Regions from separate parts of the Homo sapiens genome. Here all the other regions are linked to region 2. Evidence: fine-mapped expression QTL. A gene starts in region 2. Each other region holds a variant in brackets. All regions are shown on one strand. Distances are between the middles of the regions.

The links. PIP is the estimated chance that this variant, and not a neighbour inherited with it, causes the effect.
Region 1: its variant is the best candidate, but not a certain one, in a credible set for the expression of MGST2 in whole blood (TOPMed, PIP 0.80).
Region 3: its variant is the best candidate, but not a certain one, in a credible set for the expression of MGST2 in whole blood (TOPMed, PIP 0.84).

The regions. Positions count from the first base shown.
Region 1 is chr4:139,871,346-139,874,107 of GRCh38, forward strand. All of the region lies in intron 2 of MAML3 (mastermind like transcriptional coactivator 3), which reads right to left. Among named protein-coding and RNA genes, the nearest start is that of MGST2, 210 kb to the left of the region's middle. The variant A/G (reference allele first, on the strand shown) is at 1,568.
Region 2 is chr4:139,664,671-139,667,432 of GRCh38, forward strand. MGST2 (microsomal glutathione S-transferase 2) reads left to right here and starts at 1,149. Exons shown (of 5, transcript NM_002413.5): 1 at 1,149-1,407. The coding sequence starts at 1,350. RefSeq lists enhancers at 708-1,907, 1,204-1,373.
Region 3 is chr4:139,690,391-139,693,152 of GRCh38, forward strand. The region is part of intron 2 of MGST2 (microsomal glutathione S-transferase 2); the gene reads left to right. Among named protein-coding and RNA genes, the nearest start is that of MGST2, 26 kb to the left of the region's middle. RefSeq lists an enhancer at 2,212-2,261. The variant CAG/C (reference allele first, on the strand shown) is at 1,255.

The sequences.
Region 1 (2,762 bases), 210 kb after region 2:
TTGCCAGGAACCAATGGCCATCCTCAGTTTTTTTTAAGTATGGAGGTTTGGAAGTCAAATTTGACGCCTTTCTTCCTTTCCTGTCCCCACCCCTGCCCACAGTCACTTCCACAATCTCTTGCTTTTTCTTTGGACCTATTTCCAGGGTCACACGCAGTCAGGTCCTAATTATTTTGTTCCAGGTATGCTGTTTCCTAGCATCTCTCCTGCCAATCACTTTGATCGAGATAGTACTCTCCTCTTTTCAGAAACCTACAATGACTACCCATTGCTTCTTGTATCACAAGCTGAATCTCTCTAATGAGCTTTGAGGGGCTTCCACACTCCCCTGGGTCCTCCTCCCTGAGCTGTGTCTTCCTCAGGTTGCACTTTTTGTTCCTTATTAACCCTTCGCAACCCAGTTTCCCTACTCCCCTTTCTGATCAACAGTCCATTAAAAATAAGGTAAAACAATGCACAGTGCTGACGTCTTTTTAAAAAGAAGAAAACCCTAGGACACTAATACAATTATCCTTTTGCTTATGCTTCAGTTATCGGTTGTAACTACTTGTTACATTAATTGGGTGTATCTTTGTTACAGAGGATTAATAAATGTTTTATTTATTTATTTTAGTTTCAAAAACATGCCTTGAAATTTCACCAGATTGGGTGAAACGTGTTTACAATACTAGGAAGTGAACAGCAGGCACTAATTTTTTGTAGCAGTATTTCTCATCAAGGCACATGCATTTACCTAATCCAAAAGATGGCTAGCTTTCTCAGTTAAAAGGTATACAGAGAAATAACCCTTGCATTTGATCATTGTAACTTGGACAACATTTCACTCTATTGAATATAAACGGGAATCTGTATGCTGTTATTATTTTAAAAAAAATTTTTTAATCCAGCTTTTAGTAGAGGATAAACTTCTTAATGGCAAGGACCATGGCTTTTACTTCCTTTGTGAGGCTCACAATAATGGGAACACAGCTTCATGTGCAATTGGTCTTCAATAAATGTTGCTAGGTGATTCATATTTGAATGGGAAATGGAAAGAAAAGCCTGACGGACTTAAAGGATTTGTGTGCATGCATCTTGCTGTGAATAATACAAATGTGGAGAGAGATGACTAAGTGGACAGCATAGGGCATAGAGAGCTTTGGCCCCTGAAATACTCAGTAACAGGAAGTTACAGTGTGACTAACTGTAACCAGGTTGTGAAATGGAAAGCAGAGGAACTGGAGGATGTACTGGAAGAACTCAGGGGTGCACACAGAAGTGAACTGCAGCATCAAAGATGTAATGCCTTTCCGGGTGAGAACTTCAGAAGGAAGGACAGCACAGGGGACAAAGGAAGGGATAGAAATGATAAGTGTCTTAAAATGAAAAGGTGATGGAAAGAATTCTTAAGGCAGAAATAAAAATCCTATCAATAACAAGGTTGGGTTTAGAGTTAAAAAAATAATCACACGGCCGGGCACAGTGGTTCATGCCTGTAATCCCAGCACTTTGGGAGGCTGAGGTGGGTAGATCACCTAAGGTCAGGAGTTTGAGACCAGTCTGGCCAACATGGCAACACCCCGTCTAT[A/G]CTAAAAATATTAAAAAAATTAGCCGGGCATGGTGGTGGGCGCCTGTAATCCCAGCTACTCAGGAGACTGAGGCAGGAAGAATTGCTTGAACCCAGAAGGTAGACGTTGCAGTGAGCTGAGATTGTGCCACTGCACTCCAGCCTGGGAGACAGAGTGAGACTCCATCTCAAAAAATAAATAAATAAATAAATAAATAAATAATCACGCAGATATTTTGTTTCCTACTTTAAATAAAAGCAAGGCTTCACATTTGACCACAGAATGTTGTATTGCTTCTCTGCTATGTGGCACAGCTTTGATATCAGGTCCAGGACTGCTAAGTGAAAGAAAAGAAATTTCTGGTATGTTTGGAGCCTATGATTTCATCCCTCCTCTCACTCCAGCACATCTGATCTATGTATCCTCAAAAATGGAGCTGCTCACCTTTGCCAGCTCAGTTCTTCCCATCCTAAGCTTTCCTGAGCCAGTACCACTTAAGCATGTTATAAAATGCCAAAGCCATTCATGGTCATTATGGTGTCCACAAATATGTTCACAAATTCTTGACACTCCCTTCAGAAGGGAGAACCTAATCCCTCTCTCCTGGAGTGTGGCTGGACTTAAATTATTTTGCTTCTAATGAATGAAACAATGAAGAAACGAAGGTGTGTGATTTCGATAGTATGTCATGAAATGAACTGTGGCTTCCTCCTTGGTCTCTCTTGAAGCTGACTCAGGGGAAGCCAGCTGCCATGTCATGAGAAAACTTAAGCAGCCCTGTGGGGAGGTCCATGTGGTGAGGAACTGAGGCCTCCAGTCAGCAGCCATGGGAGGGAGCCACATATGAAGTAGAGTCTCCAGCCCCAGTCAAGCCTTCAGATGACTGCAGCCCACTTGACAGCTTCACGGTAGCCTTATGGAAGAGCCTGAGCCATAACCACCCAGCTAAGCTGCTCCTGCATTCCCTTGAAAACCATGTAAGATAATAAATGTTTGTTGTTTGAAGTGGCTATGTTTTGAGCATAAGTTGTTACACAGCAATAGATAACTAATATGGTAATCTTTCCAATAGAGCTCTTCTTTACTTTGGAGTTAAGTTTTTAAGTTTTATTAAAAGGTCTTTTCATTATTTTGGAATATGTGTTTACCTGCATTTAATATGTAAATGGATCAGATGTTATAAAATGTTCAGGTAAATTAAATCCCACCTTCTTT
Region 2 (2,762 bases):
GCTGTAGGATGGGGTGAGGAAAGGCCCCCAGCTCTGGTTTTTGGGAAGCTGCATCTTTATTTTTATTATTTGTTTGAGACAGGGTCTCACTTTGTCACCCAGGCTGAAGTGCAGTGGAACGACCTTGGCTCACTGCAGTCTCAGGCTCCTGGGTTCAAGCAATCCCCTTGCCTCAGCCCCCTAAGTAGCTGGGACTACAGGCACGTGCCACCATGCCCTGCTAATTTTTGTATTTCTTTAAGAGATGGGGTTTTGCCATGTTACCCAGGCTGGTCTCGAACTCCTGAGCTCAAACCATCTGCCCATTTCAGCCTCCCAAACTGTTGGGATTACAGGCATGAGCCATCCTTCCAGGCCAGAATCTGCATCTCTAAAGAGCAGATTCTCCTGCCTCAGCCTCCTGCGTAGCTGGGACTACAGGTTCGTGCCACCATGCCCAGCTGATTTTTTGTATTTTTAGTAGAGAAGGGGTTTTACTGTGTTAGCCAGGATAGTCTTGATCTCCTGACCTCGTGATTCACCCTCCTTGGCCTCTTAAAGTGCTGGGATTACAAGTGTGAGCCATCGCGCCCGGCCGGTTTATTTTTTTAAAAATGGCTGGGCACAGTGACTTGTGGCTGTAGTTCTAGCTACTTGGGAGGCTGAGGCAGGAGGATTACTTAAGCCCAAGAGTTGGAGGCTGCAGTGAGCTATGATCGTGCCACCACACACTCCAGCCTGGGTGACAGATCAAGACCCTGTCTTAAAAAAAAAAAGTATGATTATTATCAGAGTCTCTAGGTGACAGTGAGAGGCAGCCTGGTGCAGGGGATAGGGCACAGTTGTAATCTGCTAGACTGGGTTCAAATCCTAAATCGGCCATTCAGAGCGTGAATACATTAGAACTGGCTTAAATTAGCATTTAAAATGTCAACAGGATTAAGTAAGTAGTTCCTTCTCACTTTTTCCACAGGAGGTGAGAAAGGTCTCAGCAAGGCCCTAGGAGGGAAGGGCGTGGGGATGAAAGGGATCCAGAGAGTCTGTGCATTGGCAGAGAAGATAGTGTAACTGGCACTGCGGCTGGAGGGCTGGTCCCACAGTGAGCTACAGCCCTGCCCGCTGGCCGTGGGAGAGGCTTAAAACAAACGCCGGAAGCAACTCCCAGCCCCATAAAGATCTGTGACCGGCAGCCCCAGACCTGCCTGCCTTCCTGACTTCTGTTCCAGAGCAAAGGTCATTCAGCCGCTTGAATCAGCCTTTTCCCCCCACCCGGTCCCCAACTTTGTTTACCCGATAAGGAAGGTCAGCATTCAAAGTCAAGAAGCGCCATTTATCTTCCCGTGCGCTCTACAAATAGTTCCGTGAGAAAGATGGCCGGGAACTCGATCCTGCTGGCTGCTGTCTCTATTCTCTCGGCCTGTCAGCAAAGTAAGAGGCATGGGAAGTTCGTGTGTGTGCGCGTGTGTGCGTGTGTGTGTGTGTGTGACAAGGCTTGCGGGAGAGAGAGGGAGGGAGGGAGATGGGTCCGGTGTTTTGTTTCCTACTTGCCCTTGCAGGTAGCTCTGGGTCCTCAGAGCACAGTCGCCTCAGGGTCACCCATGCCGCCTGCTACCCTCCTTCCCAGGGGCAAGCAGAGACTGAGAACATTCCAGAGATTAGTTCTCCCAACTGGAACGCTGTGGGGCCTCAGAGCTCAGCGATTCTGCATCATCTGTGATTACGACCCACAGCCCGTTCAAACGAGCGTTAGTAGCCTGCTAACCTGCAGGAAGTGGTGTGAATATTAATTACAAGTGTTCCAAAGGAAACGTGCCTGCTTCTAAACCTGGTTGTGATTTCTTGAACGTTGATGTTTTAATTAATGTGTTTTCTTAAATAAACTGCCTATGGTGGTATGATTATCAGATTGAAAAAAACTTCCTTCAGAAATATTAGCTTTAGATTAAGTAATTAGCTCTAAATTTTAAAACAGCTTCCCACTAGGATTATTCAATATCTCGACTGCCTGGTTAAATAGAGGGCTTTTACTCCATGGGAGTCACATTTGCTCAATTCATATTATCTTACCTACAATGTCAGCTGGGGAAAGGGGTCCGAGTGCAAGAGTGCAAGACTTCTTACCAAGCATGCATATTTCTTTATATTTCCAAGTATGCCTGTACCAGGAAATAGGGCCAAGCCGTAGACTGCTCAGGTTACACAAACAGCCAGAAGCAGGAAGGCCTCACAGCTGAGGATCCAGTCCAGGCCTCCGTGCATGCTCAATGTCTTGCCTAGCCAGTCTGTTTTGAGATTGTATGAAGATCTTGAACCTTCAGACTCACGTTTTGTGGTTTGATTCACACAATCTGTTGTGGAGAAGAGCAGGATATTTGTTTCTAATTAAAGAAGCACTTAGATCTGTTAAAAGGAAAACCCTAGACAAATTACATTTAACTGAGTTTAATTGAGCAAAGAACGATTCACAGTTGGGCATGGGGAACCGGAATAGGTTCAGAGAGACTCTGGGGCTGCCACGTGGTAGAAGAAGATTTATGGACAGAAAAAGGAAAGCGACTCCCAGAAAACGGAAGCATATAGTTCACGATGTACGGAGAAACCTTTAGGCTGAACTTAAAATATGTCAGAAGGCAGCTTTAGGCTAAACCTAATTTAGCAGGTCTAAGGCTCACTGTTGGTAGCATCCTGACTCACAGGTGCTACCAAACCTGCATGCGCCTTTATCCTAGGCCTGCAGGTCCACAGATGTCCCAAAGCTGACAGAGGTGCTCATCCTCCCTGTT
Region 3 (2,762 bases), 26 kb after region 2:
TCTGCCTCCCAAAGGCCCGGGATTACAGGTGTGAACCAGCTTCCTGATCCCCCATCCTTTAATTTTTATGATGTTTGTTTTATAATGAATATGATATTCTTTTCCAGTTGAATGTATTAGCTGTGCTAATGGATAAATCCCAGATTCTCCATGGTTTAACACAGTGGAAGTTCATGTCTTGCTCAAGTCTGGTCCTATGTGGGAGCTCCTGGGTGTGGGCCTCCTCTGCTGCAGGAGGATGTGTGCATATTTTTATGGGGCTGTGCAACTGTTAGAGCTATGCAATCAGAAAAGTTTGGAGACTAGTGTTGAAGGAACTGCCACATTTGGAGCTGCCAGGCCACAGTTTGATTCTTTTTCCCACCCCCAAATAACATAAACTTTGTAGTATACTTATTGACTGAGACAAGGCCCAAATAGCACTTAGTTTGGGCCATCCTTACTGCTCCTGGTTACCAGATCCAGGTGGGAATGTGCAGTAGTCCTGAGCCCCCAGGGCCCAGGCTCCATGGTACTGGGATGAACAACAAGGGGTCTCAGCAGCTTTAACTACTCAATCTCCACAGTGCCCACCAGACTCTTTCCAGTTCTTCTGGGTCTTACCCAGTTTTAGCACTTAAAGCTCCATGTCCCCCTAAATTCCTCAGTCCCAGGCAAACCAAGATAGCGTTCATGGGAAGCTTCAATATCAAAGGAGCAGGGGATTGTTCAAAGAGGGCTCTCGCCAGGGAATGAGTATACACAGCCTGTTTTCCCATGGACAGCCTGTTTTTCCAGTATGGACATGCAGAGAGGAGACAGTGGTCATAATCAACTCTACCCCCTGTTCTCACAGGAAGGGAAGATTGACAGCTACTGCAGGCTGTTTGCTGTTCCATTTGGGAAATTTTCCTGAGGATCCCCTGTAATAAGAGGATAGAATATATCTGCCTTCATGACTTAAAAGAGGCTATAAATTATTTTCATGTCAATGAAACTGTAATTAGCCACTGACAGGATTGTCAAGAAGTAATTTTCAGAGTTTGGTCCCCTTGAGTTAAACATGCCTGCTGACAGCTTACTGAGGACGTGTTATTGTGGGACACCATCCAGGCCTGGAGGGACCCAGAATCAGGCAGAAGGACATGGTCACATGGTGGAGGGGCTGGAGGAGGTGACAATTAGCAGGTAGAATGGGATTCCAGGTATTTCAAGGCCAAACCAATACTTGGTGCTTTCACCAGGCAGGCAGCAGGGAAGACTGTCAGCAACAAA[CAG/C]GGCACCCCACTGGCAGTCAGATGATGATGATGATGATGATGATGATGATGATTATTATTATTATTATTTGAGACGGAATCTCACTCTGTCACCCAGGCTGGAGTGCAGTGGCGTGATCTCGGCTCACTGCAAGCTCCGCCTCCTGGGCTCACACCATTCTCCTGCCTTAGTCTCCCGAGTAACTGGGACTACAGGCACCCGCCACCACGCCCGGCTAATTTTTTATATTTTTTAAGTAGAGACGGGGTTTCACCGTGTTAGCCAGGACGGTCTCGATCTCCTGACCTCGTGATTTGCCCACCTCGGCCTCCCAAAGTGCTGGGATTACAGGCATGAGCCACTGCGCCCAGCAATTATTTTCAATCTCTGAGAGATGATAGCAAGAAATGGGCAAAGTCTCATTTCCAAGGGACTAAGGCTTGAGGCAGGTCAGCAAAAGAGGGACCAGGGTGAAAGTACAATGAGCACAGCTGGGACGTGAGGTTGGGGTGAGCTCAGCAGTGACCAGCCACTTGTAGGGGACAAAGGGCCTATTTCTTGAGAAAGAAAGGTACAGAGATATGGTGCTGAGCTGCTCCAGTACTCCAGGTGTTGCCATCCTGTGAGCACAAACGCAGCTGCAATCACATCCTTGCCTAAATCTCAGTGGCTTCCAGCCACCTGCTGCTCACCCAGGATCCCAGCACCCCGGTTCCCCATCTTCCCAATTCCTTCTGGGAATACAGGGGATGTGCCCAGGGACACAGCTCCTGCTGGCAAGCAGCTGAAGCAAGGGGCTATGCCACTGTCCTGCTCCCCAGTCCTCTGTGAGTACAATACCCTCCCCAGGTTCTGGAGTGCCTTCCACCACCACCAGGAGCTGCTCTGGGTCTGTGGCAGAGGGAGATTAAGGGTGTGACTCTCCCCGACTTTGTCTCTTCTGTCATCTGAGGCATGGCACCACTTGTATCTGGAATCTCACCAAGTTTTTCATGAGGACGATCCGTCAGCATCTGTTCTGGTCTCTGGTTTCCCATTAGGTGTGAAACTAGTTCCCTAGCTTGTGAGGGCAGCAGGGGAACTCCAAAACATCCCCTCTATTTTTATTTCCTTTCTCCTTGCTCAAAGGCCTTCTTCCTCTTTCAGATAAGAGACACAAAAGCACACATGCCTATCAATTTATGTGGACAGACACCCAAAGGGCTTCTGCCCTCTGCAGTGCAGTTTGGACTTAGGACATTCTTACACAATATTATCTCTTTGTCCCCAGATGCCAAGCCAAGGCCACTAGAAAAACCTCTAAATAATTAGACTTTTATGAAGGCTAACCTGGGCTATTTTTGAAGGTGCTTTTAAAACAATCTTATCACACCTAATTTTGAATAAAGATATGTTGTGGAAAAACTTGATGCTTACATTTGGAATAATTTAAGGTGTATTACAAAACAATAAATGATGGGACAATTGTGTTATGTTTCCAAAAAAGTTCATATAAAATTTCAGTGAGTGGGCTGGGCGCGGTGGCT